Homo sapiens: one gene and its partners. The protein of the gene in region 1 interacts with the protein of each later gene in a biochemical or structural test. Each region holds a gene or a part of one and is shown in the gene's direction. Other genes may lie near its edges. The genes, in order: HSP90AA1, PPP5C, FKBP4 and CSNK2A1.

Region 1 (3,836 bases):
TTACATAGTACCAGTTTTGTCCTTGGAATGACTCAGTGCATTTGGTTTATATTTTTTTCAGACTTCATTAGAGGGGTGGTAGACTCGGAGGATCTCCCTCTAAACATATCCCGTGAGATGTTGCAACAAAGCAAAATTTTGAAAGTTATCAGGAAGAATTTGGTCAAAAAATGCTTAGAACTCTTTACTGAACTGGCGGAAGATAAAGAGAACTACAAGAAATTCTATGAGCAGTTCTCTAAAAACATAAAGGTTGGTGTAAATAACCATTAGTTTTCCAATTGGCCTCTTTAGTTTTTTTTTTTTTTTTTTAATTCAGAAAGTCTTTGTAAAGAACATACTTTGTTTCAGCTTGGAATACACGAAGACTCTCAAAATCGGAAGAAGCTTTCAGAGCTGTTAAGGTACTACACATCTGCCTCTGGTGATGAGATGGTTTCTCTCAAGGACTACTGCACCAGAATGAAGGAGAACCAGAAACATATCTATTATATCACAGGTAAGAGAACACTATGTTACAGTCATACACGTCGTTCTTACAATCTTGTAGGCTCTGTGGGTGTGTTTTCTACTCAGGTAGCACTGTTACAACTGGTATTGATCTAGGCAAGATAATTAACATGAACTAGGTCATTTTCTGTCTTAGGTTCTGCCTAGGTATCTGGCTAGCAAGAAAAGTCAGAGCTAGATGAAACCATTCTTAACTGTTAAAAGGTCTAAAAGTAACTTTGTAATACCTCAGGTGAGACCAAGGACCAGGTAGCTAACTCAGCCTTTGTGGAACGTCTTCGGAAACATGGCTTAGAAGTGATCTATATGATTGAGCCCATTGATGAGTACTGTGTCCAACAGCTGAAGGAATTTGAGGGGAAGACTTTAGTGTCAGTCACCAAAGAAGGCCTGGAACTTCCAGAGGATGAAGAAGAGAAAAAGAAGCAGGAAGAGAAAAAAACAAAGTTTGAGAACCTCTGCAAAATCATGAAAGACATATTGGAGAAAAAAGTTGAAAAGGTATGTGAATACAGCATTTCCTGATCATTGATACTTCTAAGGTGCTTTCAAGCTTAGTCATACATAGCCCATTTTCGCATGTTTTCAACTTAAAACAGAAAACTATGTTGTGTGTGGCTGGGCGCGGTGGCTCACGCCTGCAATCCCAGCACTTTGGGAGGCTGAGGCAGCGGATCACAAGGTCAGGAGATCGAGACCATCCTGGCTAACACGGTGAAACTCAGTCTCTACTAAAAATAGAAAAAAATAAACCAGGCGTGGTGGCACGGCCTGTAATCCTAGCCACTTGGGAGGCTGAGGCAGGAGAATCGCCTGAACCCAGGAGGCGGAGGTTGCAGTGAGCCAAGATCGCACCACTGCACTCCAGCCTGGGTGATGGAGCGAGACTCTATCTCAAAAAAAAAATTGTGCATGTAAAACATGAAATTATAACCTGTGCTCTTTGGATACCTAATGCGACATTTAAGTTGTATTTGACAGTAGATAGTATTTTGGATCTATTGAAATTTGGGTTCTACAGATTTCATTTCACAATGAAAGTTTAGGAATTAATCTTTCTAGGTTCCTAGTCATCACTTTTTGATTACAGGTGGTTGTGTCAAACCGATTGGTGACATCTCCATGCTGTATTGTCACAAGCACATATGGCTGGACAGCAAACATGGAGAGAATCATGAAAGCTCAAGCCCTAAGAGACAACTCAACAATGGGTTACATGGCAGCAAAGAAACACCTGGAGATAAACCCTGACCATTCCATTATTGAGACCTTAAGGCAAAAGGCAGAGGCTGATAAGAACGACAAGTCTGTGAAGGATCTGGTCATCTTGCTTTATGAAACTGCGCTCCTGTCTTCTGGCTTCAGTCTGGAAGATCCCCAGACACATGCTAACAGGATCTACAGGATGATCAAACTTGGTCTGGGTAAGCCTTATACTATGTAATGTTAAAAAGAAAATAAACACACGTGACATTGAAGAAAATGGTGAACTTTCAGTTATCCAAACTTGGAGCACCTTGTCCTGCTTGCTGCTTGGAGGTATTAAAGTATGTTTTTTTTAGGGATAAGTAAGGTCTTACAAGAGCAAAGAAATGAAATTGAGACTCATATGTCCTGTAATACTGTCTTGAAAGCAGATAGAAACCAAGAGTATTACCCTAATAGCTGGCTTTAAGAAATCTTTGTAATATGAGGATTTTATTTTGGAAACAGGTATTGATGAAGATGACCCTACTGCTGATGATACCAGTGCTGCTGTAACTGAAGAAATGCCACCCCTTGAAGGAGATGACGACACATCACGCATGGAAGAAGTAGACTAATCTCTGGCTGAGGGATGACTTACCTGTTCAGTACTCTACAATTCCTCTGATAATATATTTTCAAGGATGTTTTTCTTTATTTTTGTTAATATTAAAAAGTCTGTATGGCATGACAACTACTTTAAGGGGAAGATAAGATTTCTGTCTACTAAGTGATGCTGTGATACCTTAGGCACTAAAGCAGAGCTAGTAATGCTTTTTGAGTTTCATGTTGGTTTATTTTCACAGATTGGGGTAACGTGCACTGTAAGACGTATGTAACATGATGTTAACTTTGTGGTCTAAAGTGTTTAGCTGTCAAGCCGGATGCCTAAGTAGACCAAATCTTGTTATTGAAGTGTTCTGAGCTGTATCTTGATGTTTAGAAAAGTATTCGTTACATCTTGTAGGATCTACTTTTTGAACTTTTCATTCCCTGTAGTTGACAATTCTGCATGTACTAGTCCTCTAGAAATAGGTTAAACTGAAGCAACTTGATGGAAGGATCTCTCCACAGGGCTTGTTTTCCAAAGAAAAGTATTGTTTGGAGGAGCAAAGTTAAAAGCCTACCTAAGCATATCGTAAAGCTGTTCAAAAATAACTCAGACCCAGTCTTGTGGATGGAAATGTAGTGCTCGAGTCACATTCTGCTTAAAGTTGTAACAAATACAGATGAGTTAAAAGATATTGTGTGACAGTGTCTTATTTAGGGGGAAAGGGGAGTATCTGGATGACAGTTAGTGCCAAAATGTAAAACATGAGGCGCTAGCAGGAGATGGTTAAACACTAGCTGCTCCAAGGGTTGACATGGTCTTCCCAGCATGTACTCAGCAGGTGTGGGGTGGAGCACACGTAGGCACAGAAAACAGGAATGCAGACAACATGCATCCCCTGCGTCCATGAGTTACATGTGTTCTCTTAGTGTCCACGTTGTTTTGATGTTATTCATGGAATACCTTCTGTGTTAAATACAGTCACTTAATTCCTTGGCCTTACAGTGTCTCAAAGTTCTTTACAAATCTACTTAAAGCCATCCTGGCTGAGGCAGGAGAATCGCTTGAACCTGGGAGGCGGAGGTTGCGGTGGGCTGGGATTGCACCATTGCGCTGCAGCCTGAGCAGCAAGAGCGAAACTCCATCTCAAAAAAAAGATGAAAAAATCAGCCCAATAGGTAAGAGTCCCTCTGGGGACTGGGGGTGGTAATGGCTAAATAAAAGTCTTCACTTCTGAAATTTGGTGGTTCTAGAGACAAAACTTGGTTAGATAGCATATAGGATTTGCATTCTGAGCCTAACGCCATATATAAAAATGATAGGAAATGCCTGGGACTTGGATATGTGACAGTGTCTAAGGGGGCAGTGCACAGGCAGGGAGAGACCTTGTCTCAGTCTCGTGCTAAGCAGGTATTGAATGCTTGGTAAATGGCAATCACGTTTAGTCCTTTAAATTCTCTGAAAAGTTCTTAATCCCCTTCGATAATATACAGGAGGAATTACGTAAATTGAGGTCTTAGTAGTGGCTGAA
Region 2 (7,033 bases), on another chromosome or scaffold:
GGACAGGGTCAGGTTTGTGTTTTAGGAACACCCCTCTGGAGGGGCAGGACAAGAGGCTGCGAGGCCAGGTGGAGGCTGAGCCAGGAACCTGGGCAGGAGAGGCCAGACCAGGGCTGGGTGGGGCTGGAGGGTGAGAAGGGAGTGGCTGAATCTGAGAGATGTTCAGGAGGCTGACTTGGCAGAATAAGTGAAGTGACTACCGGGCTTTGGGGGCTGAGGGATGGAGAGGAGTCCAGGATGAGGCTGTCTCAGCCAGGTGATGGGGTGGAAGGTGGAATTCCCTGGGATGGGAGCAGCCTGCATGGGGGTTGCTGCTGAGGCCGCATCAGAATTCTGGGCCACAGCAGCCATTGGGAGGAGCCTGTTGCCCCCCAGGACCTGGGATCCAGGCTCTCAGGAGTCCTGGGGCTGGGCAGGCAGCCAGAGGGGCCTGGCACTGAGCTGGCACGGAGGAGAACGGCCCTGCTGGCCCAGGCCCCTTGCTGTCTGTCAGGCAGTAGCAGGCACAGAGCCCCAGGCTCCAGGGCTGTGGGAATAACAATAAAAAAGAATAATGACAGCTCACCTTAATTGAGCCTTGTGGCCAGGTACGCTGTGGGGTTTAATCCTCCCCGGGGGCTGGGAGATGGCTAGGAGTGGCCCTGTTTGTTTTATAAAGGAAGCAAGGCTCGGAGAAGTGAAAAAACCACTCGCCCAAGGTCAGAGTGTGTGAGCAGCAGGGCCCGGATATCCCCTTCCTCGCCACGTGCTTGGCTCCCACGTTCAGGTTCCTCCCAGAGCTGTACTGGCCCTGTTGAGGAGAAGAGGGGCCCCAGCAGGGAGAAGAGAGGTCCCAGGGCTCAGAGGACTGTCCCCTCAACTGTGGCTGGTTGCTCTGTAAGTTCAGGCCTATTCCAGAAATCCTGGGGGCAGAGCCTCGTCCCCCGTCTCATGTCTGAGTCTAAGGGAAGTGTCTCAACTGTCTTCCCCTCTCTGTGGGCCTCAGTGCCCCGCTTCTGTAAAATGGGGGGTGGGGGCTTATGCTTAACCCCTAAGGAGGCTCCAGGTATAAGAGCTTGTGGGGAGGAAGCAGGCCATGGTTGAGAGCTCAGGCTGCCTGGGTTCAAACCCTATGTCTTCCTTTACCTGCTTGATGACGCCTGGGCAAATGACTTAACTTCTCTGGGCCTCTGTTTCCTTGCATCTAAAATGGGGAATGTCTTGAGGCTTAAATATGGTCCTGTTTGTAAAGCGCATAGAACAGGGCCAGGATATGGCATGTGGGTCGACCCGTGGAGTACAGGCTCCTCCCATTTCCTCTTGTTCCCTTCACTTCCTCCCTTCATTTAGTCATTCACGCATTCACTTCTTTTGCCTGCTTCTTTTGCTGCAGCCAGTTTTCTTACACAAGTTCGTAAAATCCTCACGGCCACCCAGTGAGGCAGAGCTCAGAAAGAGGAGGCTATTTGCCTGCAGCCTCGAGTTAGAGATCTGCAGAGCCGGGTGGCAGGCCCTGAGACTCCAGGATCCCCTCCCTGTGCCACTGGAGTAACAGCTGCCCCATCAGGAGCGCGGGCCAGGCAGCCTCTGGACCACAGCCAGGAGGCCTGAAGGAGTCCTCAAAGGCGCTGGCATTCCAGGGAGGGTCGGTCAGATCTGGGCTGCCCAGTTCTGCCCTTGTTTGTTTTTGGGAAGTCCCGGGCCCTGCCCTCCTGGGGCTTACAGCTCTGGAGGGACACACTCATTACTCAACAGTGACGATGAGAGTGGACAGGGCTGGCACAGGAGATCCCAGGGGCTGGGGCAGCCCAGTCGGGGGCCTGACCCAGCCTGGGAGTAAAGGAGGGCTTCCCGGAGGAGGGGACATGTGAGCATTTGAAAGATTGCCAGGAGTTGGCGTGGCAAAGAGGAATGTTGTTAGATTGTTGCTGGCCACATCCCCAGGACCCGGCTTCTCCCTTCTGTAATGTCAGTCCTCATCTCTCTCTGCATCCCTCCTTCCTTTCCCTCTGGAGCCACTCATGGAGCCTGGGACTCTCTTCTTCCATCTCTTCAACCAACTGACTCCCATCCTCCAGGTCTCAGCCCCAGTGTCCCCTCCGAGCTGCCCCAACCCTAAACACTGGGCACCACTGTCTAGGGATGGATCTGTCTCCTCCACTGGATGGTAAGCCCTGGGAGGGCAGGGCTGTGTGTAAGAAGGACTCTCGGAGTGCTGTTGAGAACATTAAAATGGGAGTGAGGGTGGGGACTCTGTGCAGGGCTGCTGGTAGAAGGACTCTAGGAAACCCTAGTCCACAGGGGGTTCCTCAGTAGCCCAGGGATACCCAGGTAGTAAGAGGCAGAGCTAGGGACTGGGCCCAGGCCACCTACTCCTGCCTCTGTGCTTACCCCTGTGCCACGCTCCTGCCCAGAGGTCACCATGGCATGGGGCGTGAGAGTGGGAGCCTTTTGGTCTTGGCCTGGCTCAGAAGGCCCACTTCTCGGCCAGGCGCTGTGGCTCACGCCTGTAATCCCAGCACTTTGGGAGGCCAAGGCAGGAGGATCACGAGGTCAGGAGATCGAGACCATCCTGGCTAACACGGTGAAACCCCGTCTCTACTAAAAATACAAAAAATTAGCCGGGTATAGTGGCGGGCGCCTATAGTCCCAGCTGCTCGGGGGGCTAAGGCTGGAGAATGGTGTGAACCTGGGAGGCGGAGCTTGCAGTGAGCGGAGATCGCACCGCTGCACTCCAGCCTGGGCGACAGAGCGAGACTCCATCTCAAAAAAAAAAAAAAAAAGAAGGCCCACTTGTCACCTGCTGTGTGACCTTGAGCACCGGCCTTTCTTCCCTGAGCTTCAGTCCCCAGATTTGGAGACGGGGGTTAATGTAGTTTCCCTGGGCTTGTGAGAGTTCAGTGAAGGGGGACCTGTGTACTAAAGCCCTGCATGGCTCTGGTACATCACGGCCCCCAGTGGGGACAAGCCTCTAAGGCTGTTTAAGCCTTGGCTCTCCTGCCTGTCAAATGGGCACGAGGGAGGGATCAAGCCTGGCTCTGCAGGTGCAGACAGGGCATTTGACCTTGAGCAAGACCTCCATGGCTTGTCTGTAAAATGAGCACCAGATGGTCCTTACTCCCGTGGAGACATGAGGATTCCACAGGTCACGAGGTAAAGTGCAGGGTACAGCTATAGCTCATCTCAAATAAAATCCGACCTCTCCTCCTTGGCCAGATGTCACATCCTGTCACTCCACACTTAGAACATCAGTGTCCAGACCTCACTGTGGCTGCCCGGGGCCCAGGGATCTGTCCCACCAGCCTCCCTGCCTCATCTCTCCTCCCCCTGCCCACTCCACCCAGCTGCCTCAGCTCTCACTGGCCCTCAGACAAGGCTCAACCACCTCTGGGCCTCTGCACCTGCTCTTCTTGCTATCGGAGTGCTCTTCCCTCAGTCTGCTGCTAGTGCCCAGCTTGGGGCTGGAGGGGTGGGTGGGCGGGTGTGTGGAGTCCTGGAGACTGTGGCCGAGAGGACAAGCCCTGAGCTAGGTTGGTTGGGACAGGCAGGAGGGGCAGGCTGAAGAGATGTCTCTGGGCTCAGGGTAGCCCTCAGCTTCCCCATCTGTGAACAGGGAGACTGGGCGTCACCCAGCCCAGGGCCTGTCCTCGCAGGGTTGGAGCACTGCCTCATGCCTCTTCTTCTGTCTCCGCAGCCAAGGACTACGAGAACGCCATCAAGTTCTACAGCCAGGCCATCGAGCTGAACCCCAGCAATGCCATCTACTATGGCAACCGCAGCCTGGCCTACCTGCGCACTGAGTGCTATGGCTACGCGCTGGGAGACGCCACGCGGGCCATTGAGCTGGACAAGAAGTACATCAAGGGTTATTACCGCCGGGCTGCCAGCAACATGGCACTGGGCAAGTTCCGGGCCGCGCTGCGAGACTACGAGACGGTGAGCTGGGGAGTGGGCCAGGCCTGGCACCTGAGCCAGGCAGATACTGAGGGCTGGGCTGGCGGGGACGGGTGTGAGGAGCCATTCACTCCTCTACTTACCACTCAGCCAGCCAGCAAGTGCCTGTGGGGCCTTGGGCCCAGGCCAGAGTACCCAGGCCACAGCTCTGCTCAGCCATCTCACATTTTGTGACCCTGAGCCAGTTACCCCGCCTCGCCACACCTTCCTTTCCATATCCGTGAAATGAGGAGAACAAGAGGATCAGCCTCAAGGGTAGCGGTGAGGAAAAGTGAGCTTTTGCCTTTCACACGAGTAGACCAGTACTTGGCCCGGGGTCAGTGTCCTGTGATGGTTCACCTGATGGTTACTGTCATTGTTAGTGCTGGTGCTGGACAGGAGCCACACAGCCTCTCTTCTTCTGGTGGAGCTTGTCTTTCAGGGGCAGGCAGAAAACCCACCACTGAATAGGTTAGCAGAATAATTGCAGGTGAGGATCTGCACTTTGAAGAAAAGAGGAAGGGCAGTCGGGCACAGTGGCTCACGGCAGTAATCCCAGCACTTTGGGAGGCCAGGGTGAGAGGATTGCTTGAGCCCAGGAGTTTAAGACAAGCCTGGGCCACATAGGGAGGAGACCTCATCTCTACAAAAAATACAAAAATTAGCCAAGCGTGGTGGCACGCACCTTTAGTCCCAGCTACTCAGGAGGCTGAGGCAAGAGGATTACTTGAGCTCAGGAGCTCAAGGCCGCAGTGAGCTATGCTCTCACCACTCCACTCCAGCCTGGGCGACACAGTGAGACCCTGTCTCAAAAAAAAAAACAAGAAGGGTGATATGCTGCCAGGGACAGCAGACAGGATATGTGTGATATGCTGATGAGGGAGGGGACCTAGGGCACAGTGAGAATTCGCTAGTGCCCTCACCCACCTAATGAAAATCCTGACGGTATGAGGCTCTGCAGAGCGAGCACACACCTTCACACCAGGTGTGCTCTGCATCTTCCTTCAGGGAGGCTGGCTGAATCATTACAGCACCCTGGGACGTGGGAACTGGGATTACTCCCCTTGCACAGATGAGGAAACAGTCCCTAAGGGGTGAAGTCACCTGCCCAGTGACCCCCACCTGGTTAGTAGCAGAGCTGGGATTTGAACCCAGGAGGCCTGGCCTCAGGGCCTTATCTCTCCCACCTCAGAGTTCGCTCCCTGAGACGGGGCCGTGCGCTTGTCCTGCGCATGGGGATGGTGCAGCAGGGGGCTTGGTCAGTGTGTGTCGAGAGGATTGTTATCCTGCCCCCCGACACAGACACACTTCACTCCCTCCTTCCCTTGCAACCATCACACTCGGAGCTGCTTGTGTCGTGTAGGGAGGGGCAACCAGGGAGCTGGGAGCCGCGAGTCTGCAGTTGGTCGCGGGGCTGAGAAGCACGAGTCTGCAGTCGGTGGAGCCAGCTCAGACACTGTCCTGGCTGTTGGCCGCTGGCCTGGGGTGGAGGGTGGACTTCAGGCCAGGTGAAGGCTTGAGCTAAGCATGAGTCCAGGGGACACATGTTAGGATGGGGGCAGAGATGTGGCGGGGGGTTAGGGCGACACCTAGAAGGGTGGGGGCAGGGGCAGCAGAGCAGAGGCCTTCCCAGCTTGGGCTCCCAAGCCATTCTTGGCCAAGCCCCTCCCTCATTGTCTCTTCCTGTCCTAATCTAGAAAATGGTGACAAGAGGAGTGGCCGCCTCCGGATGGCTGTGGCTGTGATGACATGGTTGAGTAAAGGTCACGAGCTGCAGGGCTCAGTAATGAGTAACCAAGGACAGTCGGTGTTGGGTTGGGGCAGGGCTCCAGGTGGGAAGGGGGCCTGGGGAGACAGTGGGGCAGAAGAGAGGAGCCCCAAGGACAGGTTTAGGGCAGGGTCTTCATCTCGTGTGGGGCTGCAGGAGCATCTTTCCCCAGGGTAAGGAGCAGGGGCTGCAGGCAGGGTCTTCGTCAAGTGTGGGGCTGCAAGAGTGTCTTTCCCCAGGGTAAGGAGCAGGCTTTTCAAGACTCTGGCCCAGTCTAGGGCCCAACCCCGCATACTCCCAACCCCGCATACTCCCTGAGGCTGGGCTGGTTGGCTTCAGCCATCTTGTGGGTGTGCCACGTCTGAGCTGTGTCCCAGGCCTGGCGGATGGCAGGGAGGGTTGAGGGGGTGGGGAATTCAGAGTCTTTTACAGAATACCCAGCACCTAAATTGTCATGGCCCATTTCCCCATGGGGGCTCTCCCAGCAGCATTGGGGACCCCCACATGAACATGAGGGCTTACCTGTCATCAGGCCATCCATATGCCTGCAGGCCTTCAGCCTTGCTCCTTTCTGCGCAGTTCTTCAGGCTCCATGTGCCCTGGGGCAGTTCATCTTCCCAAGACTCTACCTCCTGCTTGCTGGATGCTAGAGTTTCCTCCTAGACCAGAAGCTCGCCAGGGAAGCAGAGCAAAGACGTGACCTTGGCCTTGGGCGGGGGAGCTCCCCTTAGCCTCGGTTTCCTCAGCGGTCTGCTCACTCTGGGCCCAGCACTGCTGGGAGCCCTTTGTGCACCTGAATTCAGCCTGAATTCAGACTGAGGCCTAGAGAGGAGATGTCCCTCCTCCAAGGTCACCCAGCAGGGAAGTGGCAGAGCTGAGACTTGAACCCCTAGTCCATGCTTGTAACTGTTTCTGGGCCACAATCAGTTGAATAGCTTCAGCACTTTTGTCTTCATCAAACAGAGAATTAAAAACGGTTCATTGTTTGGAGGAAGTGTGTATAAATATTGTTTTGTGGAAATGACTTTTCATTTACACAAGTACAGATGAGTGATGGATGTGATATAAAAATCCCTATTTTACATGTGGGCTGCAGGCAGAGAGTCTGCGGTCACCAGTGCAGGGGCTAGATGGGGCAGGCTCTGGGCTCAGGACGCCTAGGTTCACAGCCAGCTCAGATTGGGTAGCAGCTGCATGGCTCCTAGTGCCTTTTTTCTCAGCCTTAGTGTCCTCATCTGTTAAAGGAGGTGAGAATATAGGAATAACAACCAAAGTGTTTTTTCTTTGTTTTTGTTTTTTGTTTTTTGTTTGAGAGAGAGTCTTGCTCTGTCACCCAGGCTGGAGTGCAGTGGC
Region 3 (7,232 bases), on another chromosome or scaffold:
TGGGCAACATAGTGAGACCCCGTCTCTACAAAAAATAAAATTACTGGGTGTGGTGGCATGTACCCGTAGTCCCAGCTACTTGGGGGACTGAGGTAGGAGGATTGCTTGAGCTCGGGAGATTGAGGCTGCAGTGAGCCATGTTCACGCCACTGCACTCCAGCCTGGGTGACAGAGCTCGAGAGCCTGTCTCAAACAAACAAAAAACACAACTGCATATTCCAGCAATCAACAGGCTGAAATGTGGCACACACACTACCACTCACCTACGCCCTGTGTACCATATACAAGTTCAGGTACTTCACATGTAATATCCCATTGCCAGTCTCAGTGGCTCACACCTGTAATCCCAGCACTTTGGGAGACCAAGGAGGATCACTTGAGTTCAGGAGTTCAAGACCAGCCTGGGCAATACAGGGCGATCCCATCTCTACAAAAAAAATTTTTTTAAGTTAGCCAGGCATGGTGGTCTGTGCCTGTGTAGTCCCAGCTATTCCAGAGGCTGAGGTGGAAGGATTTGCTTCAGCCTGGGAGGCGGAGTCTGCAGTGAGCTGTGATGCACGACTGCATTCCAACCTGGGCGACAGCGTGTGACCCTGTCTCCAAAAAATAAATAACCCATTTAATCTTCAGAGAAAACCCCTGAGAGAAAGGCATTATCATGACAGCCATTTTAGGGACAAGGAAACCTTCCTCCAGGACTCACACGGTGAGTTCAATGATGAAGCTGAGATTTGAATCCAGGTAAAGAGCTTGTGCTGGAATTGGAATCCAGGAGAATCCAATCCAGAGCCCATGAGCTTAACCTTCACGCAGGTCTTCACTATGCACAGGCCTCACATAGGGGCCTACTATTTTTAAATTGTATGAAAATGGGACTAAAATCACTAACATAAATAAATGTTTTAAGAAGTATGTAGAGGCCGGGCACGGTGGCTCACGCCTGTAATCCCAGCACTTTGGGAGGCCGAGGCAGGTGGATCACGAGGTCAGGAGATGGAGACCATCTTGGCTAACACGGTGAAACCCCGTCTCTACTAAAAATACAAAAATTTAGCCGAGCATGGTGGTGGGCAACTGTAGTCCCAGTTGCTTGGGAGGCTGAGGCAGGAGAATGGCATGAACCCGGGAGGCGGAGCTTGCAGTGAGCAGAGATCACGCCACTGCAGTCCGGCCTGGGCAACAGAGCGAGACTCCGTCTCAAAAAAAAAAAAAAAAAAAAAAGAAAGAAAGAAATATGTATTTTTTGGTCAGTAGAGTTTCTATTTTCTCAATCAACAGACACCAAAGTTAACAAGAAAATATGTAAAGGTCTTTAACGGCTTTTTTTTTTTTTGGCATTACATTTTTGACAAATTATACTGGGAACATTCTAACTTAGGCTGGGTGACAGATTTCCAGCTTTCATTGTACTGGTATACTGCATAACATGTATGCATACATGAACACACACACCTATATGCATTTCAGTCTTTTGAACGATCCAAATATCATACAATTATTTGGATGTTAAGTGCATTGGCAGCCTAGGAAGGTCAAGATATGAACTGTAGAAACAAGGGGTCTTCATGTGTAAATGATGGGCCCAGAGTTTGGGATCTGAGCCAGGTCAGCTCTAAGAGGCTCAGTGTGACGAAAACAAAGTTTCTGATCCCAGCAGGAGTCACCTACAGATAAGGTGGATGAGAAAAAGTGTGCTGACTTCCTCCCGCAAAAAAAGGGGACATTTTGGAAGAATTTCGAGTGGTACCGGTTACACATCTTTAATGAGAATACTAACTTAAATGGCCTGGGGAAAGGGTGAGGAGATAGAGGAAAGAGACTAAAACACGTGCACACTTTCTACAGTATATGTACTTTTTATGATCAGAAAAATATCACATAAACGACCAGGAAATATTCTAAGAGAAACAGTAAGTTCCTGCTCCAGGATTCAAGACCCCTAGTTTCCTCCTGTGGTTTCTCCTAGTTTCTGCCTGTGGTCCCCTAGTTTCCTCCTTCACTGTGTGGGGACAGAGCTTCTCACCGGGAACCTTGCCCTCTTGCCCTTCCCTGTCTCACAGACCTCTGTTTTCTTAGCCCTTTGTCCCCATCTCCACTGCAGCGCCTATCAGATCACACTAAAACGACCGTTATTTACCAGCTGCGGAGTTGGAGGCGAGGACTGAGCTAGATACCATACACAGATTCCCGCTTTTTTAACCATTAAATCACCCTCTTTTACAAATGTTACTATCTCTATTTTACAGACAAGAAATCGAGACATGAAGATTAACTAACCTGCCCCAATTTAAACAGCTAACATAACACATGGGCCGCCCAACGTCCCTTACTCCAAAGCACATGCTCATTCCACTAGGGTATTAGGCTATGTGTTAATGTAACGGCAGGCAATCTGAAGGGCTCCACTATGTACGTGCCGAACAGAATTAAAGGGGGGGTCCCACACTGTCCGCTTCCGATGAAGAAAAAGACGCAGAAAAGAAACCGCCACACGTGGAGAATCAGTAGGTGCAAGCCAAGGACAGTTTGCGGTAAACTGCCACCCCGGAAGCCAGCACCCACCATCCTGGTCTCCCGGAGTTTGGGTGACCCCTGGCACTGTTACTTCTGCATAAAAGTAGTGGATTTAACCCCTACAGAGGCAGCGCCCCGTATCCTCTGAAGCTGTCTCCAGCCACCTAAAGAGACGTCTTCATTATGGCTCAACTCATTTGGGCTGTAAATTGCTGAAGCGAAGGGCTTTTTCTTCTGCATCCCTTTCAAGTTCCGTCGGCAGGGACTACAATAAATCATCACATTATGACGCTGAAAGTTCATCTCTAAAAAGCTTTCAATTTAGTTTGATGAGACTAATGGCGTCCAATCGCACAGTGCCGGGCACATAACGGGAAGTCCAAAAATACAGTTATTATTGGAATAAAAATTCAGGCTGGGCGCAGTGGCTCACGCCTGTAATCCGAGAACTTTGGGAGGCCGAGGCGGGCGGATCATTTGAGACCAGATGTTCGAGACCAGCCTGGGCAACATGGCGAAACCCCGTCTCTACTAAAAATACAAAAATTAGTCGGCGTGGTGGCGGACGCCTGTAGTCCCGGCTACAGAGAGCCAAGATCGCACCACCGCACTGCAGCCTGGGCGACAGAGCAAGACCCTGTCTCAAAAAAAAAAAAAAAAGAAAAAAAAATCAGCCAAGACTTGGAAAAAGAAATTTAAAAAAGGAAAATTCATGCAGCCAGTAACTATTGGGACATCACTCACCAGGCACTATGCTAAACTGGGGTTAGGTGCTGAGCAAAACCAGGCCCCTCTCTAGATGGCTCTCTAGGTCCCACGACCATAGCTTAGGTGACACCGGCACCTGCGCGCTCCACAGCCTGTCGAAAAACACTCGGGAAGCAAACATTGAGAAGAAAATACTCCTTCTGTGGGCCTTTAGGAAAACCGAGTGACTTTTTTCGTGAGGGGAACCCATCTTTGTAAGCATTCGCGGAAACGGCAGTTTTATTACCGCCGGGAAGGGTCCCCTGAGTGTGTGCCCCATCTGAGTTCCGAGCTGGGCGGGCCATGCCTTGCCAACCCCGCTGCTCGCAGCATCTGCAGGCGCTGAGCGAGGCATCGCTGCCTGGCCGGGGCTTCTCGGATCTGGGGAAATCGAGGTCGCTTTCCCCGGCTCTCTGCAGCGGGGCAGCGCTGTCCACTCACTCCCCGCTCCCCGCGCACGCCCTTGCCCTCTTTCCCCCAAGTAGGGAAGGGTCTACGCGGGTCATAGCAGAGAGGCCACGCCGCCCGTGGTGACGGCCGGTCCCGGGGAGGGGGCGCCGCCACTGCCATCCCGCAGCCTGCGCTCCCCACACCCCGCCGCAGGCGCAGCGGACTGGTGGAGTGATGTCGGGAGATCGATCGAGAAGAATCTGGAAGAATCCGGTTAGACAGGGAAGCGGGCGGGGATGGGAGGGAGGGAGGAAGGGCCAAGGGAGGCCGCCGGGGAGATCCCGAGTCCGAGGGTCCCAGGAGAAGGGGGAGGGGGCAGGCAGCCAGAAGGAGGCAAGAACCAAAAAAAAAAAAAGAAAAAAAAATTCCGAAGCGCCCGCAGCACTGAGCCCGAACCGGCTCAGTCCCGCCGTCTCTAGAAAGTTCTGCACCCCGCCCCCTCTGTCTGCGCTCCCGCTCCTCCCAGCCCCTCCCTCGCGGCGGGGCGGGACCAATCGCTCCCCGAGCCGCTCCTGACCCACCTACCCCAGCTCTCGCGCCGCGTGCAGAGGTGCTCAAGCCTCCTCGCGGTCCGCAGTCAGTGCCGCCGCGCCCGGCCTCCCGCACGCCCCGCAGGTAGCGCCCCCGCCCGCGGCCCAGAGTGCGCTCGCGCCGGCACCAGCTCCCGGATAAACGGCGCGCCGCGCGGAGATGACAGCCGAGGAGATGAAGGCGACCGAGAGCGGGGCGCAGTCGGCGCCGCTGCCCATGGAGGGAGTGGACATCAGCCCCAAACAGGACGAAGGCGTGCTGAAGGTGAGGGGCGGCGGGGCCTGCGGAGGCGTCGGAACCCGGGGCCCCGCGGGCCGCCCTTCCGCCGCGCCCGGAGCCCGCGGCCGGGCACGGGTCGAGGCGGCCGCCTTTGCAGCCTCGCGGCCGTCCCGCCGGGGGCCGGTGGCATCGCCGTCCCGGACCGGGCTGCGTCGTTTAAGGCACCGAGGCCGGCCATGCGCTCGGCAGGGGGGCGGCCTAGGTGCGCGGGCCGAGGCCCCAGGCTCCCCAGCCGGCAGCGCCCGGGCCCGGGCAGGGGGTCGGGATTGCAGTGCCCACCCCGGCGCGCGCGGGGCGGCGGAGAGGGGCGGGGCGAGGCGACCGCCGCGGGCACCCGAGCCGCAGCCCGGGGCCAGGCCGGGCCTCCCACGCCACGCCGCCCCCGACCTCGCGGCCCCAGCGGAGCTGCCAGCCGCGGGCCGCCTCGTTGGTGGCGGTGCCAGGGCTCGCCCACCCGGGCGGTGGAACACGGGCCAGGACGGGGAGCGACTCCCCACAGTGCTTTCCTGGCCCTTCGGCCTTTGTGCGACGCAGGCGCGACAGGGTTCCGGCGCCCTCCCGGGGTCCCCTGCCGACGCCGGGACCCAGCGAGGTCCCCACTCGCCGCGCGGCGCCCCCTCCCTCGGCCCCGGGGAGGCCGGGCGCGGGGCATGCCGGGAGCTGTAGTCCCCTCCCCCCTCCGCCGCCTCCCGGAGCCAGGGCTGCGGGGTGTGGGGCGGGGAGGAGGCGCTCTGCTGTGGAGCCTGCCGCCGAGTGACCGCTCGACTACAAATAGCCTGGGGAGCTGCGGGGAGGGCATCTTGACCTGGGCCAGGACAACCTGCCTTGGGTCGGAGCAGGTTCCAGGGAGAATCAGAGATGGTGAATTCCCAGCCTGCGTCTTATGCCTTCTCCCCATCCGCTGCTGCGTCCTCATCCTGGCTTCCCACCGCTGAGCTCCGCGTGTGCGGCACCCACCTCAGGGGGCCTTTACCTGGTCCAGAAGTGCATCTGTCTTTGCACCAGATTATTGGGGACCTCAAGCGTCTGCTCCAGCGGCTCTCCTGTGGCATGTGACTTCCCCTTCTCGCTCCAGCGTCCTGCCGTTTTCTACGAGATTGTTATTCCAGGAAAGCTCATTTCCCCTTTGATCCATCATTCCTTCCCTTTTACCTTTCTACTCCTCAAAGCCCCTGTCTATTCTTCGTGGAAGCTTTCCCTTGGAGGGTAACCACACACCTACCAGGTGGCGCTAAAGAAGCCTTTACGTTTCTGGGAAATACTCCAGCCCTGGACTAACTACCAGAGGAATACTCAGCTCCCAAGTCAGAGTTTAAGGTCCCATGGAGAGCCTCCGGGTTCACCTATAACCTGGTTTCTTCCTTACCTGTTTTGAACTGTTTCTATTCTCTTCACTCATACTCCTCTCGCTCTCCTGTCTCCAAACCAGACCTTAGTCTGACGACCACTGGCATGAAGGAAGAAGGAGGAAGTGTGGCATAAATACTTCCCCCTTTGCCGATTATAATAATAATCTATTATTCAACCTTTTACTGGTCTAATCTTCCAACAACTGTAGGAGATAGGGATTATCATCACTGCTTTACAAATAAAGTGTGGAGAATTTTAAAAACTTACCATACAGCGGAAACTTGAACTCAGATCTCTCAGCCTTTTGTCTCCTTTTTCAAACCAAGTCTTGCTGCACCTCAAGAAAGACAAGAAGGTTAGTTGACTCATAAGCCAAGCTGCTAGTAACTGAATCTGGAGGGACAAGTAGGCAGAGGAGGATGAACACAGAGAAGTCCCTTTATGTTCCCTCTGGAGGCTTGCAGGCAGTGCTGGTGCCCCTTTCTGCCCCAAACCCTGGGGTACTCACTTTCTCCCCCTTCCTCCCAGGTCATCAAGAGAGAGGGCACAGGTACAGAGATGCCCATGATTGGGGACCGAGTCTTTGTCCACTACACTGGCTGGCTATTAGATGGCACAAAGTTTGACTCCAGTCTGGATCGCAAGGACAAATTCTCCTTTGACCTGGGAAAAGGTAGGCGTGGTCAGTGGGCTGGTAGGATAGGTTCGAGGTGGACACAAGCTGTCACAAGCAGAAACCATTTTCTCAGGACCAAGCTCAGGGAGGAATGGTTTATCACAGTCTGTTAACTCTTTCGGTCACTCTTTTTTTTTTTTTTCTACCGTTCTGTAACTATATTGATCTCTGTCTCCCCTTCTCCTCATCACCTCCCAACACCTTACTCCCCCTTCAAAGGTGGACTGTCTTGCATCTTAAACTCTTTTGTTCAGGGTCACGTGATCTTTTACAGTTCTTAGACCTGGTAGCACTTAATACAACCAGGTACCTCACCTTCTGGTCCCATTTCTAAAGGATGTCCAGCTTCCCCATGAGTGTGGTGCAGTAACTCTTCAGGAGCACTGTTTGAGCCCAGAATCAGAACCCTGCTAAGGCGGTCCTGTTTGCTTCTGTACCTGCAGGGGAGGTCATCAAGGCTTGGGACATTGCCATAGCCACCATGAAGGTGGGGGAGGTGTGCCACATCACCTGCAAACCAGAATATGCCTACGGTTCAGCAGGCAGTCCTCCAAAGATTCCCCCCAATGCCACGCTTGTATTTGAGGTGAGTGTTTGGTCACTGAGATCCAGGCTAAGAGCCAGGCCTTATCTCAGCCCAATGCCTGGCTGCCCTCCAGCCCTTCCTGCTTCTTGGAGACAATGT
Region 4 (7,033 bases), on another chromosome or scaffold:
GACTACAGGCACCCACCACCACCCCAGCTAATTTTTCTTGTATTTTTAGTAGAGACTGGGTTTCACTGTGTTAGCCAGGATGGTCTCGATCTCCTGCCCTCGTGAGCCACCACGCCCGGCCTTTTGTTTGTTTTCTGAGGCAGGGTTTTGCTCTGTTGCCCAGGCTGGAGTGCAATGCCATGATCATAGCTGACTGCAGCCCCGAACTTCTGGGCTCAAGTGATCCTTCCAGCTTAGCCTCCTGAGTAGCTGGGACTACAGGCGTGCACTACCACACCCAGCTAATTTTTAATTTTTTTGTGTGTAGAGAGAAAGTCTCACTATGTTGCCCAGGCTGATCTCAAACTCCTGGGCACAACCCATCCTCACACCTTGGCTCCCCAAAGTGCTGAGATTACAGGCATGAGCCACCATGCCCATCCTGTAACTAAGTTTAACCAATCTTCAGAGTAAATTCAAGAATGTTTTCTTGTTCTTCTGAATTGTATACTAAATAAAAAGGTCTTCTCCCCAGCTCCCCCAAAAAGCCTTCTTTCTCCTCACAGAAAAAGGAGAAAGGAACCAAATTAATAATAGATTTGCCAAGTGTTTAAAAATCTGAAGTTTTCTTGGGAGTATCTTTTATGCCCAGTCTTTCCAGGTTATTATCAGTTGATTTTAAAAGTTTCAGACTTTTTGTTCTTGTAGGAATTTCTTTCTTGGGGTCTTAAGGCTATAGCCCTGAGTTCAAAAAGCATTTTATGCATAAAAATAGTTTTTACAGTATTACTAATAATTGTGAAAAACAGAACACTGTCCTATTATAGGAAAATTAAAGATTGAATTCTGAAACATTTATGTAATAAAATACTAATGATACACATTAGATGGTCTCCATGGGCTAACAATTTGGAGGTTTTTTTTTTTTTTTTTTCATGTAAGTGAAGAAAACAATTCAAAATAGTATGTATATTAGCTGAGCATAGTGGTGTATGCCTGTAATCCTACCTACTCAGGAGGCCTAAGCCCAGGAGTTGGAGGCTGCAGTGAGCTATGATCACGCCACTACACTCCAGCCTGGGCAACAGAGCAAGACCCTGTGTCTTTAAAAAAAAAAAAAAAAGAGCCAGGCACAGTGGCTCACGCCTATAATCCCAGCACTTGGAAAGGCCAAGGCAAGTGGATCACAAGGTCAGGAGCTCAAGACCAGCCTGGCCAAGATGGTGAAACCCTGTCTCTACTAAAAATACAAAAAAATTAGCCAGGCGCGGTGGTGGGCGCTTGTAATCCCAGCTACTCAGGAGGCTGAGGCAGAGAATTGCTTGAACCTGGGAAGCTGAGTTGCAATGAGCCAAGATCACACCCCTGCAGCCTGGGCGACAGAGCAAGACTCTGTCTCAAAAAAAAAAAAAAAAAGTAAAAATTGTTTTAAAACCGAGTGAAAGATGCATAAAAGAAAAAACTAAAAAAAAAACTAAAAAAAAAAAAAAAAGAAAAAACTAGCCAGGCACGGTGGGTCATGCCTGTAATCCTAGCACTTTGGGAACCTGAGGCGAGCAGATCATGAGGTCAGGAGTTTGAGACCACTGGCCAACGTAGTGAAACCCCGTCTCTACTAAAAATACAAAATTAGCCAGGCATGGTGGCACGCGCCTGTAGTCCCAGCTAGTCAGGAGGCTGAGGCAGGAGAATTGCTTGAACCCGGGAGGCGGAGGTTGTGGTGAGCCAAGATTGCGCCACTGCACTCCAGCATGGGCAGCAGAGTGAGACTCTGTCTCCAAAAAAAAAAAAAAGAAAGACTAAAAAGAAATATATGAAGATGTTATTAGTGTTTTGATTTTGAGTCAGTGGAGTGATTTTTTTTTAATTTTAAAAATTAATTTTTTATTTTGAAGTGACAAGCCTGAGGATTCACAGATAATAACAGTGAGTTTACTTTTATGCAGATGTACGATTATAGTTTGGATATGTGGAGTTTGGGTTGTATGCTGGCAAGTATGATCTTTCGGAAGGAGCCATTTTTCCATGGACATGACAATTATGATCAGGTAATATATGTTATACCCATTGAAAAATGTACTGGCCTAATGCAATGATAGCCAGCACTGCCTGTAACTTTCAGTTCACTGTTTATTCAGCCACCCCGATATTGATCCTTAGATTGATGTTTCGGGAGCTACCAGCTTAGCCTTTTGAAATCAGACATTCCCCCCTAGTCTTTGTCATTTGCATTGCTTATTTTATTGTGAAGAATACATATAAATTGTCATCCAGATTTTTAAAATAGGACATTACCTTAGAATTCTCCTAATAAACCCTTATCTCCAATATGGTGTTTTCTCCAATATGTGAGCCCATATGTGGTATTTCTGTGATCCTTTTGGCTCTTTATATGGGTTGAGTTACAGATGTTTCTTAAACTAACTCCACTTCCCCCTTGAAGATCAAAGGGCTCTTTCATTCACAAGAACCTGGAATGATTCTAGGACCTTGTGGAAGGTACCATTGTCTTGTTCCCTTTGAGCACCATGTCCAATTTTAATGAGTCAAAGAATACAACCTGAATTCCATTAAAGTCAATAACTCTGTATCAAGTGCATGCAGTACTGAGGAATACAGAAAAAAGAAAGAATAGTTTTCTTCCCCTCAGATAGTTCATAGCTGATCTTGTAAGGGAGTCAAACATACAACAAAATAGGTTACAGTCATAACTTCAGAGTAGAAATGTGGACAAGGCACAAAAGGCAGTAGTGGTGAGTAGTTTGAGTGTGCAATGGGAGCTTCCCAAAAGAAGTGACATCTTCAATTGGGTTTTGAGGGGAGAAAAATAAGGGTTCACCAGGGTGACATTTCAAGAGGAAGAAACCAGTTTATAAAGTAGTTTGCTTTTTCTAACACTATCACATTGAGTTGAAGTCTAAACTGTTAGGAGGTAGCATTCATACCTGTAGACATGATGACCCGTTTATGTAAATTCAATCATTGTTAATTGTTGATTTGTTAATATAATATGCTTGTGATATGGGTTTTTGTCTTTCTTTAATACTAGTTGGTGAGGATAGCCAAGGTTCTGGGGACAGAAGATTTATATGACTATATTGACAAATACAACATTGAATTAGATCCACGTTTCAATGATATCTTGGGCAGGTAAGTCATGAAACAAAATATGTGCATCTGTGGCTTAAGCACTTTGAGAGTGAACTGGCACTTAGGATCTTCAAAATAGTTATGTTTTCTTTGCCAGCACTGTCAGGATGTCAGTGGTCCAGTGCCACAGGATGCTGCATTGAGCAGGCCTCTGATAAAGGCATTGGATTGAATGGCCCTTTATTCAAATTAACTTACAGGAGTCTGATGGAGGGGTTATAGCTAGAGGATTCCTACAAAATGAATGTAGATTCTAGTAGAAGGGTTACAGTTGAGGCAAAAATCAAAATTTACCTTGCTTCTTTAAGTGAAAAACCTCTCTCCAAGAGAAAGAAATTGAAGTAGAAAATGCATGCTTTAAGACTGATGTGCAGGCTGGGCACGGTGGCTCATATCTGTAATCCCAGAACTTTAGGAGGATCACTTGAGCCCAGGAGTTGGAGACCAGCCTGGACAACATAATGAGACCCTCGACTCCATGCATGGTGATGTGTGGCAGTAGTCCAGACTACTAGGAAGCTGAGGCAGGAGCTTCCCTTGAGCCCAGGAGGGAATGCTACAGAGAGCAATGAACATGTGGCTGCGCTCCAGTCTGGGCAACAGAGTGAGACCCTGTCTCCAAAAAAAAAAAAAAAAAGGCTATATGCAGACAACCGACTCTTAACAGTAGTGACTAGATATAGTACTTATACACTTAACCACTCAACAGGAGGAGATGGACTTTCCTGATGCAAAGGCTTTTGCTGGCCAATTGGCAGAGATGCCAGGAATATGTGTGGGGATGGGAAATAGGCCTGGTGAGCTCAGCCACCTGACCCTCCTTGCTACACAGAAGCGGTCACGTCCTGTCAAGTAACCTGAATTATGTTTCTTAAAATTGAGAGGACTCAGATGTCTTTTTTCACTCTAGCTATGTTGTTTCCAGTCTCCAGTTAGCTTTGTTGTCCCACTCAGTGGCAGAGCGGTGCAAGACTACCCTCTTGAGTTTGGATCCCTCTTTGCTTTTGTCTGGGCTGTTAGCCACTAAGAAAAATGTAGGAATGAAATGTTGGGCTTCTGTGCCCACGTGGCCCATTTCTCATGCCCTCTTTTGGTCCTGCAGACACTCTCGAAAGCGATGGGAACGCTTTGTCCACAGTGAAAATCAGCACCTTGTCAGCCCTGAGGCCTTGGATTTCCTGGACAAACTGCTGCGATATGACCACCAGTCACGGCTTACTGCAAGAGAGGCAATGGAGCACCCCTATTTCTGTGAGTCCAGATATCTAGCCCACAGAGTTTGTGCAGGCGCAGAGTCCTATAGAACAGAGTCGTAATCCCAGCTCCTGTCAGCTTGCTGCAAAGTTAATTCACCCACACTGAGCCTCAGATTCTTCCAGTGGGGATAGTGATGGCAACTACATTGCAGAATTACTGGAAGAATTCTTCTGTAACAGAATACATGACACAAGAGCATTCCTAAATAAACTCTTTTCATACTGTGAGGATGACACTTCTCAGTGCCTCAGTCTGGAATGGTTGAATTAGAATACACAGCCCTGTATCTTTCCTGTCCCTAGTAATCATTCGTTGGAAAGAGCTAATGAGGCTTACAAATCTTAAAATTGTATGAACACCTTGACTTAGATTTGTGAGTATAGCCACCTGTGCCATCCTAAGTGAAAATACCACTGAGACCCACCCCATCTGCACTGTGATGTTAGCTGCAACATGACATTTTTCCTTCGGTGTGATGGTTTTGTACTGAATCATTTATACTTTTGCCCAATACCTGAAGCAGATAGATAGGCTGATTGGGATAGAGAATGTGGTCATAGCCCTAAGCTACATGGACCTATAGCTTTGGCCTACTTGGTACTGGGCTGTGGACACACTGGTAATATATTACCGTCTTTGCCGAGTTACAGTGTCTTGTCTCCATTAAACCTCAACAGGACCAGGGCTTCATTAAATTCGCTCTGCTATAAATAATTACCTCATCTTTCTACCATTTGATTGAAAGGTTAGCTTTTACCACAGTTTGATAGGAAAGCTATTTCTGCTTTTTACCACTTGTCTAATTCATGGTGAAGGCAATTGCCACCTTAAGTTCTTTGGGGAATAATGTAGAGTATATATAAATTGCAAAGAATGAAGCTGGCTGCTTTCAGGCTTCCAGACCATTAGTTTAATCTTTCAAGCAAAACAGAACCTAGCCTTTTTGTCTCTTTTCTAGACACTGTTGTGAAGGACCAGGCTCGAATGGGTTCATCTAGCATGCCAGGGGGCAGTACGCCCGTCAGCAGCGCCAATATGATGTCAGGTCAGTTCATTGGTAAATTTTCTTTAAAAAAATGTGGAAGTCAATTACTGTTCTTAGCTTTGTGGTCTGATTTCTTGTATACCTTCTCTTCTCCGTACTGGTGGCCTTGTGACTTTTTTTTAACCAGGTTTCAGCATGCTTGACATTTGGTATACTTTAGTGATACTGTCTTGAGTAGGGTATCCCCTTCTAGGCTAGAATCTCAGCATTCCTGGCTGAAAATTTTTGGCATAGGGGCTTGAAAGTGCCAAGCCATGAAAAGGAAAAATACACCATTTCATCTTATAGTTTGAAATGACAGTAGTTACATGGCCCTTAGAAACAATGTTAAGAAATGGGGTATAGAGGTGGGGTTTATACATAGGTGTGTATGTGTACAAGGACAGTTCCGTGACATGTGCCAGAGCAACTATAGAGTGCCTATCAGTTGTAAAAACATAAGTAAAATGGTTTTCCATTATTGGATCATTGTGACGCACAGTGAATTTTTATAGAGTACCCAGTTATTCCAAAGGAACTACAGGCACATAGCATAAGAATTATACATATAGGCAACATCCAAGTGGGTGCATATCTGGTAGTGAAGGCATTTACTTACATATCCTCAAATAATTGCTGTTGCCCTCCTCTTTTTTAAGAAAAGAACTAACTGCCTTCTAGAATTTACCCCTTGAGTATCCTACCTCTGTACAGAGTAATGTATATCCAAACTTACTTGTAGCCTTATTTGTAATAACAAAACATTGAGAATAGCTATCAGTAGGAAACTGGTTAAATCAGTTATGGTATATCCATTTAATGGAATGTGGTGCAGCCAGTAGAATAAGAGTTTCATGTTCTGTTAGATCTCCAACTCCAATATAATAATGTGAAATTTAAAACGCAAGATGCAGGGCCAGGTGCAGTGGCTCATGCCTGTAATCCCAGCACTTTGGGAGGCTGAGGCGGGTGGGTCACTTGAGGTCAGGAGTTCGAGACCAGCCTGGCCAGCATGGCGAAACCCTGTCTCTACTGGAAATACAAAAAATTAGCTGGGCGTGGCGGCGGCGCCTTTAATCCCAGCTACTTGGAGGCTAAGGCAAGATAATCGCTTGAACTTGGGAGGCAGAGGTTGCAGTGAGCCGAGATCGCACCGTTGCCCTCCAGCCTGGGTGAGAGTGAGACTCTGTCTCAAAAGAAAAAGTGAGATGCAGAGCCATGTCTAAGAGGAGTGGAGAAGAATGTATAATAATGTTCTCATATATATATATATATATATATATATATTTTTTTTTTTTTTTTTTTTTTTTTTTTTTTTTTTTTTTTTTTTGGAGACAAGGTCTTGCTCTGTGGCCAAGGCTGGAGTGCAGTGGCACAATCTCAGCTGCTGCAGCCTCCGCCTCCCGGGTTCAAGCGATTCTCCCACCTCAACCTCCCAGGTAGCTGGGACTACAGGCGCCCGCCATGACGCCCAGCTAATTTTTGTATTTTTAGTAGAGATGGGGTTTCACCATGTTGGCCAGGCTGGTCTTGAACTCCTGACCTCAGGTGATCCGCCCAACTTGGCCTCCCAAAGTGCTGGCATTACAGGCGTGAGACACTGCACCTGGCCTTTGTATACTT

The links.
Region 2: the proteins of HSP90AA1 (region 1) and PPP5C form a complex in vitro, tested with the Homo sapiens proteins (4 studies listed by BioGRID, with this or other methods).
Region 3: the proteins of HSP90AA1 (region 1) and FKBP4 form a complex in vitro, tested with the Homo sapiens proteins (4 studies listed by BioGRID and IntAct).
Region 4: the proteins of HSP90AA1 (region 1) and CSNK2A1 form a complex in vitro, tested with the Homo sapiens proteins (4 studies listed by BioGRID and IntAct, with this or other methods).

The regions. Positions count from the first base shown.
Region 1 is NC_000014.9:102,080,209-102,084,044, reverse strand, and holds the end of HSP90AA1 (heat shock protein HSP 90-alpha), read left to right. Parts: intron 1-61; coding exon 62-252; intron 253-351; coding exon 352-499; intron 500-742; coding exon 743-1,011; intron 1,012-1,600; coding exon 1,601-1,934; intron 1,935-2,223; coding exon 2,224-2,333; 3' UTR 2,334-3,303; downstream 3,304-3,836. UniProt on the Homo sapiens protein: Molecular chaperone that promotes the maturation, structural maintenance and proper regulation of specific target proteins involved for instance in cell cycle control and signal transduction.
Region 2 is NC_000019.10:46,350,075-46,357,107, forward strand, and holds part of PPP5C (serine/threonine-protein phosphatase 5), read left to right. Parts: intron 1-3,673; coding exon 3,674-3,915; intron 3,916-7,033. UniProt on the Homo sapiens protein: Serine/threonine-protein phosphatase that dephosphorylates a myriad of proteins involved in different signaling pathways including the kinases CSNK1E, ASK1/MAP3K5, PRKDC and RAF1, the nuclear receptors NR3C1, PPARG, ESR1 and ESR2, SMAD proteins and TAU/MAPT.
Region 3 is NC_000012.12:2,790,739-2,797,970, forward strand, and holds the start of FKBP4 (peptidyl-prolyl cis-trans isomerase FKBP4), read left to right. Parts: upstream 1-4,231; 5' UTR 4,232-4,401; coding exon 4,402-4,506; intron 4,507-5,202; exon of another isoform or gene 5,203-5,630; intron 5,631-6,138; exon of another isoform or gene 6,139-6,208; intron 6,209-6,399; coding exon 6,400-6,544; intron 6,545-6,990; coding exon 6,991-7,133; intron 7,134-7,232. UniProt on the Homo sapiens protein: Immunophilin protein with PPIase and co-chaperone activities. Component of steroid receptors heterocomplexes through interaction with heat-shock protein 90 (HSP90).
Region 4 is NC_000020.11:484,774-491,806, reverse strand, and holds part of CSNK2A1 (casein kinase II subunit alpha), read left to right. Parts: intron 1-1,925; coding exon 1,926-2,027; intron 2,028-3,028; coding exon 3,029-3,129; intron 3,130-4,231; coding exon 4,232-4,380; intron 4,381-5,344; coding exon 5,345-5,431; intron 5,432-7,033. UniProt on the Homo sapiens protein: Catalytic subunit of a constitutively active serine/threonine-protein kinase complex that phosphorylates a large number of substrates containing acidic residues C-terminal to the phosphorylated serine or threonine.